2 separate regions of the Homo sapiens genome follow, and region 2 is linked to region 1. Evidence: fine-mapped expression QTL. Tissue or cell type: thyroid. Region 1 holds a variant in brackets; the other region holds the start of a gene. All regions are shown on one strand. Distances are from middle to middle.

Region 1 (8,102 bases):
GCCAAACTGCTTTGGGTAGAAAGCGCTTGACTGACAGGAGGAGAGCTGGCCTTGAAACTGCTGGATGAAGGCCCTGGTGAAGGCCTTCAGATCGCATCACCCTATGTAAAGCCCTCTGGTGGCTGCCTGTCTCACCAGAGTAACAACCGCAATCCTGACCCATCTCACCGCCTCCTGATTCAATCCGCCCTGGTTTCTCTGGCCTCAACTCCTGTCCAGCCACACTGGCCTCCTTGCCATTCCTTGAAAATATCGAGCTCATTTCTTCTTAAAGGCCTTTGCATTTGCTCCTACCTCTTCCTAGAACAATCTTTTCAAATCATGTTGGGCAACAGAACCACTCATGGAGGTCATCAAACTCTCAATGCCCAGGCCACATCTTACACCAGTTTAATTATCTCTGGGGCCTTAAAGATCCATTTTTAAAACAAAAACGGAAATAAAACCTCCTCAAGAATTCCAATGTGTAGTCACTTTTAGGAACCAGTGTCCTAGATCTTGTGGTTCCCAAGGTGCGGTCTCAGATCAGCAAGAACAGCATCACCTGGGAACTTGTTAGAAATGCAGATTCTCAGGTCCTAGCCCAAGGTTATTGAATTGGAAACTTTGGAAGTAGAGCCCAGGAATATGTATCTTACCAAGCCCTCCAGGTGACTCCCATGCACACCAACTTTTGAGAACCACTGTCCTACATCCTTGGTGCTCAAGATGAGCCTTGTGGACCGGTATCATCTGCACGCCCTGGAAGCTTGTGAGACAGGCAGAGTCTCCAATGCACCCCTGTGGGCAGATCTGACCCAATGAATGAGGATCTGCACTTCACCAATATTCCTAGTCATGCATATGCACATCAGAGTTCAAGAAGCTTTCTAGCTCTGTCCCCAGAGAGGTCCTGGAAGTGGTAACACACCTGGTGGCAGGAGCCCACCCAGCCCCCAGATCTTGGATTCTAAATATCTTTTAACACCAAAAGAACCAGGCTTATTGGAGAAAGGGCTGATTCCAGGGCTGGGGCAGGGAACATACCAGATGAGCCCAAAACATCTTATTGTGCCGGAAGGCAAGGAAATACCTGAAGAATGGTGGGGCTGTGTAAAAAGACACAGAACTCAGTCTGAAGGGCTCTCATTGATCAAATCTGAGATGGTCTGATAGCAGTAGATTATAACCTAGTGAATAAAATAAAAAGCCATGAGTTCATAGTTATATAAATAAATATATGATTATATAAATAAATGGGTAGGGCCAGGCATGGCGGCTCACGCCTGAAATCCCAGTACTTTGGGAGACTGAAGCTGGAGGATCACTTGAGCCCAGGAGTTTGAGACCAGCCTGGGCAACATAGTGTGATAGTGTCTCTACAAAAAAATCAAAAAATTAGCTGGGCTTGGTCGTGTGCTTGTAGTCCCAGCTACTCAGGAGGCTGAGGTGGGAGGATCCCTTGAGTCCAGGAGGTCAAGGCTGCAGGGTACTGTGATTGCACCACTGCCCTCCAACTTGGATGACAGAGCAAGATACTGTGTCAAAAAAATAAAAATAAAAATAAATAAAGTAAATGGGGCGAAGGAAAATCTCTTCCTTACAGTACAGTGGCAACTAATAAGTTGTAGAAGATGAAGTATGCTAAAACTAGTGAGGATCAGAGCACTTACATTCTAAAAGTGCCTCCCCACAAATTACTCATTCATTAAAAAGGGGGGAAAGGCAATTTTTTAGTGGAGAAACCCGGAGGAGACCACCTAAACCAATCAACCAACGTTAATGTCCCCAACGTAGGGACAAACAGCGCCACGTGCCTCCTGCTGTGATGCACTGAGGGGGACACAACATCACTTCTGTGGTGTTCCTGCCACAACGGTGTCACCTGAAAGTAATCCTCAGGAAATATCAGCAAACCCAAATGACAGGACGTCCCACAGAATAACTGGCCTGCACTCTTTAAAAAAATGTCAGGGTCAAGAAAGACAAAGCATGGCTAAGGAACTGTTCCAGACTAAAGAAAACTAACGAAACATGAGGACTCAGTGTAATATGTGACCCTTGGCCTGGAAAAATATGTGCAATTTAAAAAGGTTATTGTTGGAGCAACTGATACCATTTAACTATGCATTGTAGATTAGATATGGACTGTGGTTATATAAGCGAATGTTCTTATTCTTAGGAAGTACACACTGAAGTATAGGGTGAAAGGGCAGTATGTTCGCACTGTGCACTCTCAAATAGTTCTGCAAAAAGTGTGTGTGTGTGTGATGTGTATATTGTATACTTAGAGAGAGAGGACAGAGAATGAGGCAAAACGTAAACAATTAGTGGATTGAGAAGACGAGATTTCCTTGTACTATGCTTGGAATTTTTCTCTACGTCTGAAATTATGTCAAAATAAAAGTCATGTCCCCTCTTCCTGCAAAAGAGACCAATGAGAGCAAACACCCAAAAGGCAGTGTTCTAGAACACTCTTGCTCCTGAGTTTGGTATGACTCTCTCCCTCTGGTCATTCAGGTCCACTTTTACATCCTATGCCTCCTCTACAGGGAGGCCACACCTAGTCCCCCAACCAGTGTACCCCCCCATTCCCAGCCCTCCTCCATTACACTCCCCTGTGTTCTTGCTCACCATAGCACTTTGTTAGTATGTGACACTATTCTTGTTTATATATTTGTCTACTCATTTACTGTCTCCTCCCACTAGAAGGTAAGCTTCATAAGCATGGAGACTCTTTCTGTCTTGATAGTCCCCTCTATGTGAAATGAATGAATGCACAAATGAACAGATCTACAGATCTGAGGCTCCGTTTGCTCATCTGCAGAACAAGGGGCTTCATCTGGATTTGGTGCAACATCTGGATTCTTTCCCCGTGCTGACACTGAAGGAAGGCATCTGGCAATGGAAGAGCTACTGTGTCATGCACATCTAAAACACTCTAGGCTTTTATTTACAGTTTCTCATTTAATCCTCACCATGATCCAGCAACAGCGGTAGGAGTACTCTTATTCTGTTCCTTCATGTAGCAGAAACGTGCCGAATGCCTGTTACCTGCTAGGCGCTTAAGAAGACAGTGCTGAGCACCAGAGGCACAGCCCCACCACCACGGAGCCTGCTGGTGAGCAGGACTGGCTGAGAAAACCGAGACTCCGAAAGCTTGCCCAACTTGCTGAAGTTATGCAGCAAGGACATGGCAGAGCTGGGAAGCCCATGCTGTCTCCACTGCTGGTAACAAGGGGCGTAAAGGAGAGAAGCTGCTGAGTTGGCCACTCCTCAGGTGGCTCCCTCGGAGCTGTCACGCCCACCTGTGTCCATGGCCTCAACACCGCAGCAAAACAGAACACGCTGTATCTCAGCCATTTCCAGTTGTGTTTTTTATGATTCCATGGCCTCTCAGTCATTTATTATTTATCTGTATTTTAAATTATTAATTTTTTTATCATTTACTATTTATTTCATTTATCTGTTTTTTATTATTTCATGGCCTCTTGGAGGAGACAACGGGCTCTGTGGGGTGAGAAAATGTGAGATTGGAATGACGCACAGGAAGGATTTATGTCTGCTACAACACACGAGCCTGGAGAAGGGGGAAGGAGGGTATTGTATGTTTGAGGACACATCATGTGTATTTGAGAATATAACTTTCAACAAGAAGGGTTGCATGGACCATAAGCTTATACTTCCCATAAGCAAGAAGGCTGTCTGTTTCACTGGGCAAATATTGTGTTCAGTTCAACCTTAGAAGTAATCTAAGTTGGAGATGAGATCAAATAACCTTGACAGAAGAAGCAAATCAAAGTAACCAAATAAAAACCCACTTCAAAAATGTTTAATGAAGACACTGAGCATGAAGAATTAAA[A/G]CAATGTAAAGGAGTGGGGGTGGGGAGCTACAACTTCTTAAAAGATGTTTCTTTTTTTTTTTTTTTTTTCACCTCACTGATCCTTTCCCTACTTGAAAGCTTTCTCTGCCAGTGAATCACTCAACTAATTGCCAGGTCCTGTTTCCCTGTTTATAATCTTGAGCCTGAAGAAGCCTTCTGTAAAGGCCACAGTAAATTTCCCTGGCTAGCAAGACAAACATTTATCCTAGGGGCTGGATTACTATGCTGGGAGGTCTTAGATTCCTGGGATTTAGTGCATGCTCGCGCCTCACATTTTTTGGGTGACCTTCACCTCTCTGTGCCTCAGTTTCTGAAGCTGCACAATGAAAACAATGTTCCCCACTGAGTCACATCCTAGGATGGCTCTGAGCTCCCCGTTGGAAGGTGGAAAAGGGTATTTGGCAGAGGGTATGATTTATCTGTTCCTCTAAATGCTTCTCCTCCTTCTGGAAGCTGGCTCATTATGTTGGGAATTGAAATGCATTCTCTGTGGGCATATGAAGTAGATTCCTTACGGGAATGTTTAATGGGTGGGTGAATAAAAGAGACACATTAACAAAGTTGTGTTATTCTAGAGAAAAAAATGTCATATCTTCATTTTTTTGTGACCACAAAGTGCAGAGTTGAGGAGGGGGTGGACAAGAAAACAGTATTGTTCTTTGGAGCTATTATTCCCAGATGGCTTGCCCATGATAGAAGCTTTTCTGTTGCTGTTGAATGTCATTTTTCCAAGAAAGCCAGTCAGCTAACTGGCAACTGTGTGGGTGATGACATGCCCCACCTTTCTCTTTAGTGAGTTCCCCTTCCTTGAAAGTAAGAATAGAGTGAATGAACCCTCGTCAAAAGGTGGGGTAGAGAAAGTTCAATCAGAAGAGGGGTTCAACTAAGTACCACTCATTTTCCTCCAACCTTAAGATTCAGAGATTCTAGTCCCTTTTGGTGCCACATCCTCTTCTGAATAGACAATCCAAGCTGTGCAGCAGTGCGCAGGGACAAAGGGCTCTGTGGGGTGAGAAAATGTGAGACTGGAATGACACACAGAAGGGATTTATGTCTGCTACAGCACACGAGCCAGGAGAACAGGGAGGGAGGCTATTATATGTTTGAGGACACATCATATGTATTTGAGAATATAACTTTCAACAGGAAGGGTTGCATGGACCATGGACTCTGTAGCCTGAAAGGAATCCTGGGAGCCCCCGGAATCCCTCTGGATGTAGCTTTCAGCCACAGGAAGCTCTGTTACTGAGGAGAGACTGGAGGAACCCCAGCACCAAAAACCCAGAGAGGGTGAGCACAGCAGTAGAAATTGCGATGGTATCAGCTTAGCCAGGCCCTCATTTTAGAGTAAATTACAACCACAATAATCACAGCTCCCCAGCCTTAATCCTCTGCTATGTGCAGGTGTGATGCATAGCTTGCTTCATTTACCTCGACAATTCTTCAAGGGAGATACTACAGGCCTATTTTGCAGATGAAGAAACTGAGGCTTCAGTTTCACTAGAGAGAGTAAGTGAGTTGCCTTGCAAATGGCAGAGCCAGTATTCACACTCAAGCCTATCCGACTCAAGACCCATGTTCCTTCCAGTGTGTCAATAGTCTTGATTTAAAAGTGGGGATTATAAACCCCACTCTTTTGCAGACAGAAAAACTGAGCTCATCCAGTGGAGATAACACTGAGCAAACTGAGGTTTGACTGGTTCCAAATTTCTGCCAGGCGTTTTGTGTGAGGAGCAGTTGGACCTTGCAGAATGATGAAGCTGGGGGACTGACCAAAGGGTGGTCTGATCAAACCCCTTTTGTCTACAGAGGGAGAACTGGACTCAGAGGGCATAGGTAAGCAGCTCACGGCAGGAGGCAAGAGAGTGGCAGGCCAAGCACAGAGCCCCTATCTTCAGCCTCCCAGGGATATGACTGAGCTGCTCTTGGGTATAGTGGGAACTGATCTGTCCCACCTGCCTCCTGATGGCCTCTGTGTGCCTGGCAGGGATGCCTGCCCCAGGCTGGGATGGAGGCATGTCTGCAACCTTGGAGGGGACCCAGGAGGCCAGGGCAGGTGGGGTTGACCTTGTGACTCGGAAGCTGGCTCTGTGTGAAAACACAGACAACTGGATGGGCCTGGGGCCTAGGGGTCAGCAGCCCAGCACCTGTCTATGCTGGTGAACCCGGGAGAGAGTGGAGGGTCAGGTGAGGTGCAGAGAGCAAAAGCGAGGCTTTATTCATGGAGGTATACTGTTGTTCTCAGATGCCCCTGCTCATCCTATACCTCCCTTAAAGGCTCAGCCTTCGGAGAGAAGCCCTCTGAAACCATCTAAACTCCCTTTTCCTCCTCTGGCTACAAGAGTCGGAATTCCCACTACCATTTCTAGAAGGCTGGTTATGTGCCAGGCCCTGGGCCAGACATGCTACAAATAAGATCTGACATTTAGCTTTCCCAACAATCCTGTGACCATGCTGTAACGAGCTAAGGCTCAGAGAGATCAAGTGACTTGTCTAAGCTCACACAGCTGATGAGCAACAGAGCCAGGGTGGCAGCTCTATTAGGATAGAGACTTTTAAAAAAAAAAATTTTAGACAAGGTCTAGCTCTGTGGCCCAGGCTAAAGTGCAGTGGCACGACCACAGCTCAGTGTAGCCTCAAACTCCTGGGCTTAAGCAAGCTTCACGCCTCAGCCTCAACCTCCCAAGTAGCTAGGACTACAGGTATGAACCAACACACCTGGTTAATTTTTAAAATTTTTTGTAGAGATGGGAGCTCACTATGTTGCCCAGGCTGGCCTTGAACTCCTGGACTCAAGTGATCCTCCCACCTCAGCCTCCCAAAGTGCTGAGATTATTGGCGTAAGCCACTGCACCCAGCTGGGATTTCTGACTCCTGTTTGCTGCTGTATTCTCAGTGGTTGGCACGTAGTGGCCACTGAGATACACATTTGTTGAATAAATGTCTGACTCCAAAGCCACACTCTTTGCCCTATACCCCTCTCCTTCCTGGGAACTCTCATGGGAAAATTCAATTTTGAGTGAAAATTGACTTGGAGGACTTCAGTCAAGAGTGAATCCATTAATTTCTCTTCTATGGGTACTTTCTGTACTCACCAAAATAAAGCAATAAAGAAAACTCCCCAAGTAGAGTGTCAATGACATTATGCACATTTTTATAATTAGTAATCAGGGCTGCTGTGGAACTGATTTCTTCCTCAGGAGGATTCACAAAGATGCTTGTTAGCTCATTTTGCTTTTTGTCTTTCCTGCAGACAACACGGACAGCAACAGACCTTGGTTTTTCTGTGTCTGGTCCTTCTCCGAAAGTTCAAAGCCTTTTTCATTTTGCAACACAGAGTCTCTAAGGCACCTTCCTTAAGCCATGAGTTTCTGACTTTATATTCAACCTAGGCTTTGGGGGTGTGGAAAGGGTCATCTGTATATCCTCAGATTTCCAAAAAAGGAATTGCGAGGATGGCTTACTGCATAGCTCCCTGTTGTCCAGCAAGGCCCAAGGCCTGTTTGTTGGGTCATTACCATCCATGCCACACAGCGACTACAATTCTACAATTACAAGTGAACTTCATCTAACTTTACTGACCATGATTTTTGTGGTTGTTCATCATTCAGGACATATAGTTCAGCATCTCACAGAGCCCTAAGTCAAAATAATGCACTTTGAGTTTTAACTTCTCAGAGCTGAAAGGGATCCTACAGATGACCGCATCTAACTTTTCCCAAAGTCTTTTTCACACCACACAGCCACAGGATACTGTACCCGGGAAGGTTTCCTGTGTTGCGGAAGTGTGGGAAGTGCTACGTGGTCTACCTCCCTGTTAGGACCCACAACGCATAAGGGCAGACTGAGGTTTCCAAGAAGTCCTGTAGGAAATATACTTTTGTTTAACTTTGTTCTACACCGTATTCCCAAAATTACTGGCCCAGGAGGGGGAAGCCTTCTGTGTTTTCTTTCTTTTTCAATTTATGGAAAATTCTTTGGGAAATAAAACTCTTATCAGACCCCACCTCTCCACCTCCCAATTTTACAGATGTAGAAAGTGATGATCAGCGGAGGAAAGAGAAAAAGCGGCCAGAAGTTGTCCATAGGCCAGGCCTGGGATATATGTCTTAACTCCAGGTTCACGATTCCTCTCAGCCACACCTCCCAGGTAGGACTGTCAAATGGTTGTTAACAGAGATAGCAGGATAGTAAAGTGCAGATTGACCCAGGTTTTATTGCACCAGGTTTTGCTGATTC
Region 2 (8,102 bases), 190 kb after region 1:
TGGGACTGCTTGGCATCCCCGCTTCCTGCGTGCTCCCTTTCTGGGGCTCCAAGTTTGGCAGAGACCCAGGTTGCAGAAGGGCAATGGGCAAAGTGCTTGGCAGGAGGGAGCAGCAAGGGTGAAGGCCTGGAGGCAAGAAAGCCTGGAGCACACAGGTGGCAGGGGTAGGTGGGGGTCCTGCTTTCCAGAGTGTTAGACTGTGTGCCAGGGACCTGGCTCAACGCTTCACATCAATCATCTCCACTCACTCCACACAACAATCTGCAGGAGAGGGGTTATGATTAATCAGGCTGTACAAATCAAGAAACCAAGGCACAGAGAGGTCACATTATTCACTCTAGGTCACACAGCCCATGAGGGATGGAGCTGAGATTTGCAGGCAGGCAAGAGGAGGGTAGTGGGCAGGAAGCAGATCCCTGAAGGCCCAGATGCTCTGACAAGGCTCTGCAGCCACCTACACACCCAGGGACGTGGACACACTGCAGTGTGCCCAGGAAATGCTGGCCAGGTCAGGGAGGCAGCCACTCAGCAGCCCCGCCACTGACCCTTGGTCTCTTCAGGGCTGCTCCCAGGGATGATGTTCTGAGAGTTGTAAGAGGCCGACCAGACAATCCTCGATCTCCAGCAGGATCCCTGAGCTGGCCAGGTGGCCCAGCGTGGGCTGCACCTCCCACAGGCATTGCAACAACTCTTGTTGGTGGCCTGATAGACGAGACAAACTCTTCCCTAGAAAGGGGCGAGAAGTTTTGTTCAAAGTCCTAGATCAATTTTATTTTACTGTTGAGAGCTGCTAAAGAAAGTAATCATAAAGTAGGCTTTGAAAAATTTCGTTCACTGCCTCTACGTGGACGGCTGTAGACTACAGCCTGAAAATTGGCCCTCCGGGAGCTCTGTCCAGCAATCGATTTTCATTCTTGAAATGAGAAGAATTAGTCCCAGTGGAATTTCAGGCTAGTCTATGGTTCTGAGGGGAACCTCGGCCTGGCTTTCCTTGAAGCTCCCTTCTTGTTGCCAAAGCTTTCCATTTCCCTTGGTACTCACAGTTATCTTTGAGGGGGCAGGGTGCACAAAGTGCATCATGGGTCTCAAATTCAGCTCCCTGCAAGGGCCGGTAGGTGACAGAAAAGAGCAAACTAGCTAGGAGGGAGCTGTGGCACCCTGGGGAGCCCATGTGAGAGGGTGGCTAATGCCCCTCAGCTCCAGGACATTGTAGACAGGGGGTTAATGGGCCTGGGTGGCCCCATTTTGCCATATTTCAAGATAAACCAGGCATTCAGATTTTGTTGTTGTTGTTGTTGTTTGGAGACAGGGTCTTGCTCTCGCACCTAGGCTGGAGTGCAGTGGTGTAGTCATAGCTTACCGCAGCCTTCACCTCCCGGGCTCAAGTGATCCTCCTGCCTCAGCCTCCTGAGTAGCTGGGACCATAGGCATGCACCACCATACCCGGCGAATTTCTAAAAAAAATTTTCATAGAGATGGAATTTTACTTTGTTGCCCAGCCTGGCCAGATTTTTTAAATGTGAAATCTTCCAAGCTTTTATTCATAAAAATTAACTCCAAACACATTAAAGCTCAGTGACAGCCAAAGAAGCACATCTGGGAGCTGGATTCGGTTTAAGGCCTCCAGTTCGAGACTTCTCCTCTCCTCAGAATGGCTCATTGAGGCAGGGTGTATTTTATCTCATATTACAATGAGGAAACTGAGGCTCAGAGAGCAGGCCTGCAGGCCCAAGTCACACAACTGGGAAGCCACAGGGCTGAGGTGGAGCTAGGGTCTGTGGCCTCCCGCACTGAGCTCTCTCCACCCTGTGCATGCCTCTAGCTTTGGCATTGGCTCCTCCTGGCCCCTTCTCCGGTCTGACCATCCCTTTTCCACCTCATCTGCCACCTCTCCCTGGGGCTGAGGTTGGGGCTCTTCTTGCCTCCTTCTCCTCCTTTCTCTCCTTGGGGCTGGGTTTTTTTGTCTGGCAATCGCCCACCCAGAATCCCCTCATTCAAGATTGTAACCTCTGGAGCCAGGTGGCCTAGGTTTGAATTCCAGCTCTACTATCTGCCAGCTGAGTGACCTTGGGGAAGTTACTTAACTTCTCTGTGGCTCGGTTTTACCTTCTATAAAACGGAAGAAATAATTGTACCAATCTCATAGGGGTGTTGTCGGGATGAAAAGGGTTAACTTATTAAAATGCATTTAACTGTGCAGGGTACATAGTTAAGTGCCAAAGAAAAGTAAGTTAAAGCCAGGCACGGTGGCTCACGCCTGTAATCTCAGCACTTTGGGAGGCCGAGGCAGGCAGATCACCTGAGGTTGGGAGTTTGAGACCAGCCTGATCAACATGGAGAAACCCCATCTCTACTAAAAACACAAAATTAGCCAGGCGTGGTGGCGCATGCCTGTAATGCCAGCTACTAGCGGGGCTGAGGCAGGAGAATCACTTGAACCCAGGAAGCGGAGGTTACAGTGAGCTGAGATTGCGCCATTGGACTCCAGCCTGGGCAACAAGAGCGAAACTCCGTTTTAAAAGAAAAAAAAGAAAAGTACGTTAAAATAAATGCAGCAAACACTTATTGAGTACCTACTGTGTGTCAGGCCTATGATAGACTCCAGGAGTTGATGGAGGCAAAAGAACAGATCCCATCCCTCATGGAGCTGGTAACTGGATAGATGGTTCACTCGTGTGTCTTGCGCTGGCACTACCTGCATGAGGCTCCGCTGGCCTACCTGGAGGTCAAAGGATCCCATGGGCCTTTCCAAGTTGCAGCTCTGAACACACAACTCTTCCCTCCTCCCACAGCCACTGCCCTTGCTCACTCTCTCAGACCCTCAAGCTCAGCCCTGCCACCAACAACCTTGCTCTCAGGCCTTCGCACGGCAGGCACCTCTGCTAGAACTTGCTTCCTCTCCTGCCGGCTTCACTGCTCGTGGCTTAGTCAAAGCCTCCTTTTGGTTCAAACTTCAATCCTGGAGTCCCCTCCCCACGCTAGGACCTGCCCCTTTGCTTCAGTCTTTGTGCCCTGTGCGACCACACATGCACAGGGCGTCTGAGGAGTTTTTGCTTGACGTCTATTCCTGCAGTTCATGAGGGAACCTCATAGCTGAAGCAGAGGGATGTGGGAGACCCAGTCACTCCTCTTCCTCAGCTTTCGTTTGCTCACCTATAAAAGGGTACAGTGACCCTGAACTCAAAGGAGAGTGCTCAGGTGGCCAGAAGCAGATGTCACGTGGGCCACTGGGACCCTAGAGGCACTGCTGATCCCCAGGTGCTTCCTGGAGGAAGGGGCCACCCGGGGCCCGCAGAGAAGGGTGGGAAGGGTGACAGGAAGGCAAGGAAGGGCATGTGCCCAGTGGTCCTCGTCTGTCTTGGCTGGAGCCAGTATGAGGAGCACCCACTGGAAGGTCAGGTTGGAGTCCGATGGCAGGGGCCTCCAGGGAGAGCCAGTGTCACTTCGGGATGCTCCTTAGCATCCTGGGGCTGTACAGGGAGAGTGGCTGCAGAGCCCTTCCAGGCAGGGATCCTGGCCTGAGTGGGGGCAGCTCTTGGTCGGACCTGTGTGGTATTTCTTCTTCTTCTTCTTTTTTGTTTTTTTGAGACTCATTCTTGTCACCCAGGCTGGAGTGCAGTGGCGTGATCTCGGCTCACTGCAACCTCCGCCTCCCGGGTTCAAGGGATTCTCCTGCCTCAGCCTCCTGAGTAGCTGGGATTATAGGCACCCGGCACCACGCCAGGCTAATTTTTGTACTTTTAGTAGAGACGGAGTTTCGCCATGTTGGCCAGGCTGGTCTCGAACTCCTGACCTCAGGTGATCTGCCCCCTCGGCCTCCCAAAGTGCTGGGATTACAGGCATGAGCCACCGCGCCTGGCCGGTATTTCTTCTTTCATTCTCCGTGTAAATGGTGGAAGGATCGGCTCTCTCCTCCCCGCCTCCCAGGTGCAGAGAGAGAGAGAGAGAGAGAGGGACAGGAGAAGGCTGGGGTTCGGGGTTCTCACAGCGTTTCCCTCTCATGCTGCCAGGGCGGGGCAGTGGAAAATGGTCCCTGAGGGCCCGTTCATTCAAATAAGGACAAGAATAATGGCACACTCCCCATCTCCATTTAAAAATAGTCACATTAGCTGACACTGGCTTGGCACTTCCTAGATGCCGGGTGCGTTCCGAGTTCTCTACGCTGTTAACCTTGGATCTTCATAACAGCCGGAGGAGACAAGCGCTACTATTTTCCTTTCCATTTTATAGATGAGGACACTGAGGCAGAGAAATTGAGTCACTTGCCCAGGGTCACACAGCCATGGCAAGGCCAGGATTCTGGAGCTCTGTACCTGGCTTCACACCACAAGCTCAGGCCACCCTCCCGGGGCATACCGAGTCTCCCAGAACGTGGACGATCGCCCAGGGCAACGCAGTGGAGTGCGAGCCCGGTCTGGTTTGCACCTGGCTGCTCCAGGAGCCCTGGGCCTCATCCTAGGAGCCTGGCGGAAGAGGCGAGCGGTGGAGTTTGGAGGCTGCTGTGAAGGAAAGGACTAGGCGGGTCGGGTCGGGTCTGTCCTGCTCTTCTTCCGCAGGCAGGAGGCGCCCAGGGCGGGCTGCCGCACCTGGCAACGAACGTTCGCCGCGCGGCATGAGGGTGTGCGCGCGCGCTCGGCGAGCCCGGGTTCTTTGTGTGTCCGAGCCCATGCGCGCGTGCGTGTTTGCGTGTATGTGTGTGCATGTGTATGTGTGCGCGCGTGTGTCCGCACTTGGGGCGGGGCTGGAAGCCCCGGCCCCGCCCCGGCCCCGCCCCCGGCCCGGCCGAGCTGGTATTTTTCCACCCAGCAGGATGGGTGATGCTGAGAGCTGCCTGCTCAGACAACAGACACGCGAGGTCAGGAAGAAGCCGCTTATAAATTACCGCTTCCTTCGCGCCGCCGCCAACGCCGAGCCCCGAGGACCGCAAGCCCAGAGGACAAGCTGCGCCAAGAGGGAGTGCGGAGCGTTCACCCAGCGGGTCAGAGAGCGAGCGGGCAGGCAGCCCCCGGCCGGCGGAACCCGGCACAGCCGAGCAGAGCGCGGGCGGCGCCGCAGCCACCCCAGGTACCGGAGGGACCGGGAGCTGGGCGCGCAGCCGGCGCTGCCCGCCGTCTGCAGCCCCTCCCCATCCCCGCGTCGCCGCAGTCCCGGCCTCCTCCCCTCCGCGTGCGCCCATCCGGCGCCCCTTTCACCACCGCGGAAGGGACCGAGAGTCGCCTGCTCAGTCCCGCTGGCGGGGCTGTTATTGTTTCCCCGGCAAAAGGGCTCCGGCTCTTGGTGCGGGCGGCAGGAGAGTGTGTGTGTGTGTGTGTGTGTGTGTGTGTGTGTGTGTGTGTGTGTGGCATATCTGTGTGCCTGTCTCCGTCAGGATGCCTACATGTGCCTCCGTATCCCTGTGTCTGTGTTTCTGAGGGTGACTGTTTCACCGTGTCCCCAGCAGCGTGCACATGTGTGTTCCGGTGCATGTCTGTTATTCTCTGCGTGCTGGGCTGTGTGTGTGTGCCTCTCTGTGTGTGATACCTGAGTGTGCTGTCTTTGGATGTGTGCTCTTGTGTGTCCCCGTTTGTGTCTGCATGAATCTGTGTGTGGGGGGCTGCGTCTTCCAGGCCCTGGCTAGGTGCACGTGCGTGTCCCTGAGTGTGGTTGTGTCTCCAGGTCCCTGGTTGTGGGCACTCGTGTGTCCTCGGCTGTACCCAAGAGGGTGTCCCTGGTGCCTAGAGGGTCCAATGGCCAGAGCTGGTTCTCCAGGGCCGGCGCTGAGTGGGGAGAGGTGATAGGGCAGCGTGGCTCCATAGGTGCATGCACTCCATAGGTGGTGTGCAGGTGGCAGCGCCAGCGTCCAGCAGTCCTGAGTGGTGGGACCAAGGCCCGGAGGGGCAGCCAAGGGGTAGTGGACAGCCGGCAGGGCCAGCAGGACACTTCCCCCTCCAGACTATTTCTCTTCCTTCTGTGGGTTCCTCTTTTGAGTAGGAGATTCTCGTCCCCCTCCCACTAGGGAAGCCACACAGAGAGAATTCCAGGGACCTCCTCCTACAGCCTCAAAGCTTCAGCCTGGACTTCAGCCTGGACTGGAGAGGAGACCTGTGGGCAGCTCTCCCAGGCAGGGAGGTGTGTGCCGGGTAGGGCCACCGGCCTGGCTATTTTGGTCACTGTTGGGCCTCTGCCAGATCCCGGCATCCCCAGGACCAGCCCCAAAAGCTTGGGAGGCAGCCTGGGCCCCCGTTTCCTGTCTGGGGAAATAAATCAGCTCAGTAATTGCCCAGACACTTGAATGGAGGGTCTTCGGGCTGAGGTTTACTGGCGCATGGCTCCATTTGGACTTCACTAAATTGGCCCCCGCTTTGGCACAGCTGACGTTCAAGTAAATGTCACTGAGGAGATCTTTTTAAAATTTCTTTTTAATTTTTTGTTGGCTAGAAGGGAGGGGATCTTGTCCAGAGTCTCCTAGCCAGAAGGAGTTTATTTTTATGAGAGAGAGAGCGGGTGAGTGCTTAGCAACCACCTGCCTCCCTCTCGACCAGGGAGTCACCCAGGGATTGTGGGGTGGGCATGAGGAGGTGGGGTGGGGGAGGAATTTCATCAAGATGGTGTTGGAGAGGATCCAAAGGGGGCCTAGCACGGCTAAGAACCCCCAACAGGGTGGGACTGGTAGAATGGTGGGAGGTGTTAGGCCTGGCTCAGCCCCCAGTTGACCTTGGGCAACCCTTTTTCTGCCTCAGTTTCCTTACCTGTAAAATGGGTGGGGCAGACTGGTTATAGAGTAAACCAGGGACCAGAGGTAGGAGCTTGTCCCCAGGGAACTGATTTAAGTCCTATGCTTTGTTTTAATGGGTGGGTGACCTTGGTTGATTCCCTTGGTTTCTTTGAGCCTCGGCTTGGCTGCCTGGGCAGCAAGGACACCAGTGCCGGCCTCACTACGTCCTTGAGGGGATTGAGGGAGATGAGGCTGAATAAGCTTGTAGTAAGCTGTAAAGCCGGGCTCGGCTGTAGAGCTGCTGATTAGAGGGTGTCACGAGGTCCTGGGTCACTGTGGTGTATGGCAAGGGCCAAGGTGCATTCTGGAGGCTTTGTCCTTTGGGGACACCCTTGTACTAACCCATGGCTCAGCTGCAATCATCCTCCCCTGCCTCCTTCCCGTCACCTCAACCTGTGGTGATTGGACCACATCTGCTTTTCAGAGTCTGGAGGCCTGGTGAGCAGTACCCATTTTATAGATGGACAAACTGAGAGCCACCTAAGGGACTTTGCCTTGACTGGACAAAATTAAGTTTCAAAAGGTTTTCCCTAGCTCAGCTGTGAGTTTTGGCCCCATGGGGCTTTGGTCACTGATATCCTCGGGAGTTGAAATTGAACCGGGGCCTGGGGAAAATGAGGAACAAAGGTGTCCCAGTCCTTAGGGCAGGAAAGTGAGCCTATGGGACCCATTTGCACCTTGCTTCTGTCCCTAGTTACTCATTCTCCCTTCCTTGTGCCTTCCCCTGAGCCCTGCTACCCATTCTGCTGCAGGGGTCAGCCCTCCACAAGGCAGTCCGGGCTCTGGGGACTCTGTTTTCTAACCTGAACTTGTCCGCCTGTCAGTTTGTCAAAGGATTTGGGAGGTGTACTTCTCTGAAAGTCTTTCCAAAAGTCCTGAATGATAAGAAACTTGTGAGTCATTGAACACATTCCCGTATATAGAAAAAGCTGAGAAGTAAATTATAAGGGCTCCCCAGAATGCAGCTTAGCTGCAGCCAGAGGGGGTCTGCCTGGGAATTGGGGTTGGCCTGAAATCCCAGGGCCACCCTGGCAGGTACATGCTGATTCCCCACTTCTGCAGAAGGTCATGAGCAAGAGTCAGATTCTTTGGGGCTGCATCTCATTTTCCTGTGTTTGCCAACTTGGCCAGAGCGTTCGTTTGAATTTATGGGTTCTGGGCAGGAGCTGTGGATCTGGAAATGCCTAAGGAAGCCTTCAAGTGAGAATGAGAGCGCTTTTTTAATGTGCTTCATTTAGTTGATTAATAGACCTTGGTTAAGGTCAGCTCTGGGCTGGCACTGGGTTCAAGGTAGAGTGTTGGCTTTCTAGGAGCTCCTGTCCCAGAGGTAGAAGCATGTGGTAACTGC

What was found. PIP is the estimated chance that this variant, and not a neighbour inherited with it, causes the effect.
Region 2: SLC6A6 starts here. The variant in region 1 is fine-mapped to the expression of SLC6A6 in thyroid (GTEx, PIP 0.98).

Annotation. Positions count from the first base shown.
Region 1 is chr3:14,206,923-14,215,024 of GRCh38, forward strand. No RefSeq gene overlaps it. Among named protein-coding and RNA genes, the nearest start is that of LSM3, 32 kb to the left of the region's middle. RefSeq lists enhancers at 2,672-3,172, 3,173-3,673. The variant A/G (reference allele first, on the strand shown) is at 3,843.
Region 2 is chr3:14,397,784-14,405,885 of GRCh38, forward strand. SLC6A6 (solute carrier family 6 member 6) reads left to right here and starts at 4,823. Exons shown (of 15, transcript NM_003043.6): 1 at 4,823-5,064. It overlaps LOC105376959 (a long non-coding RNA gene), which reads right to left and starts at 4,624. Exons shown (of 8, transcript XR_007095825.1): 1 at 2,878-4,624; 2 at 1,361-1,454; 3 at 546-726. RefSeq lists enhancers at 4,247-4,296, 4,307-4,476, 5,797-5,856, 5,927-6,006 and a silencer at 4,617-5,146.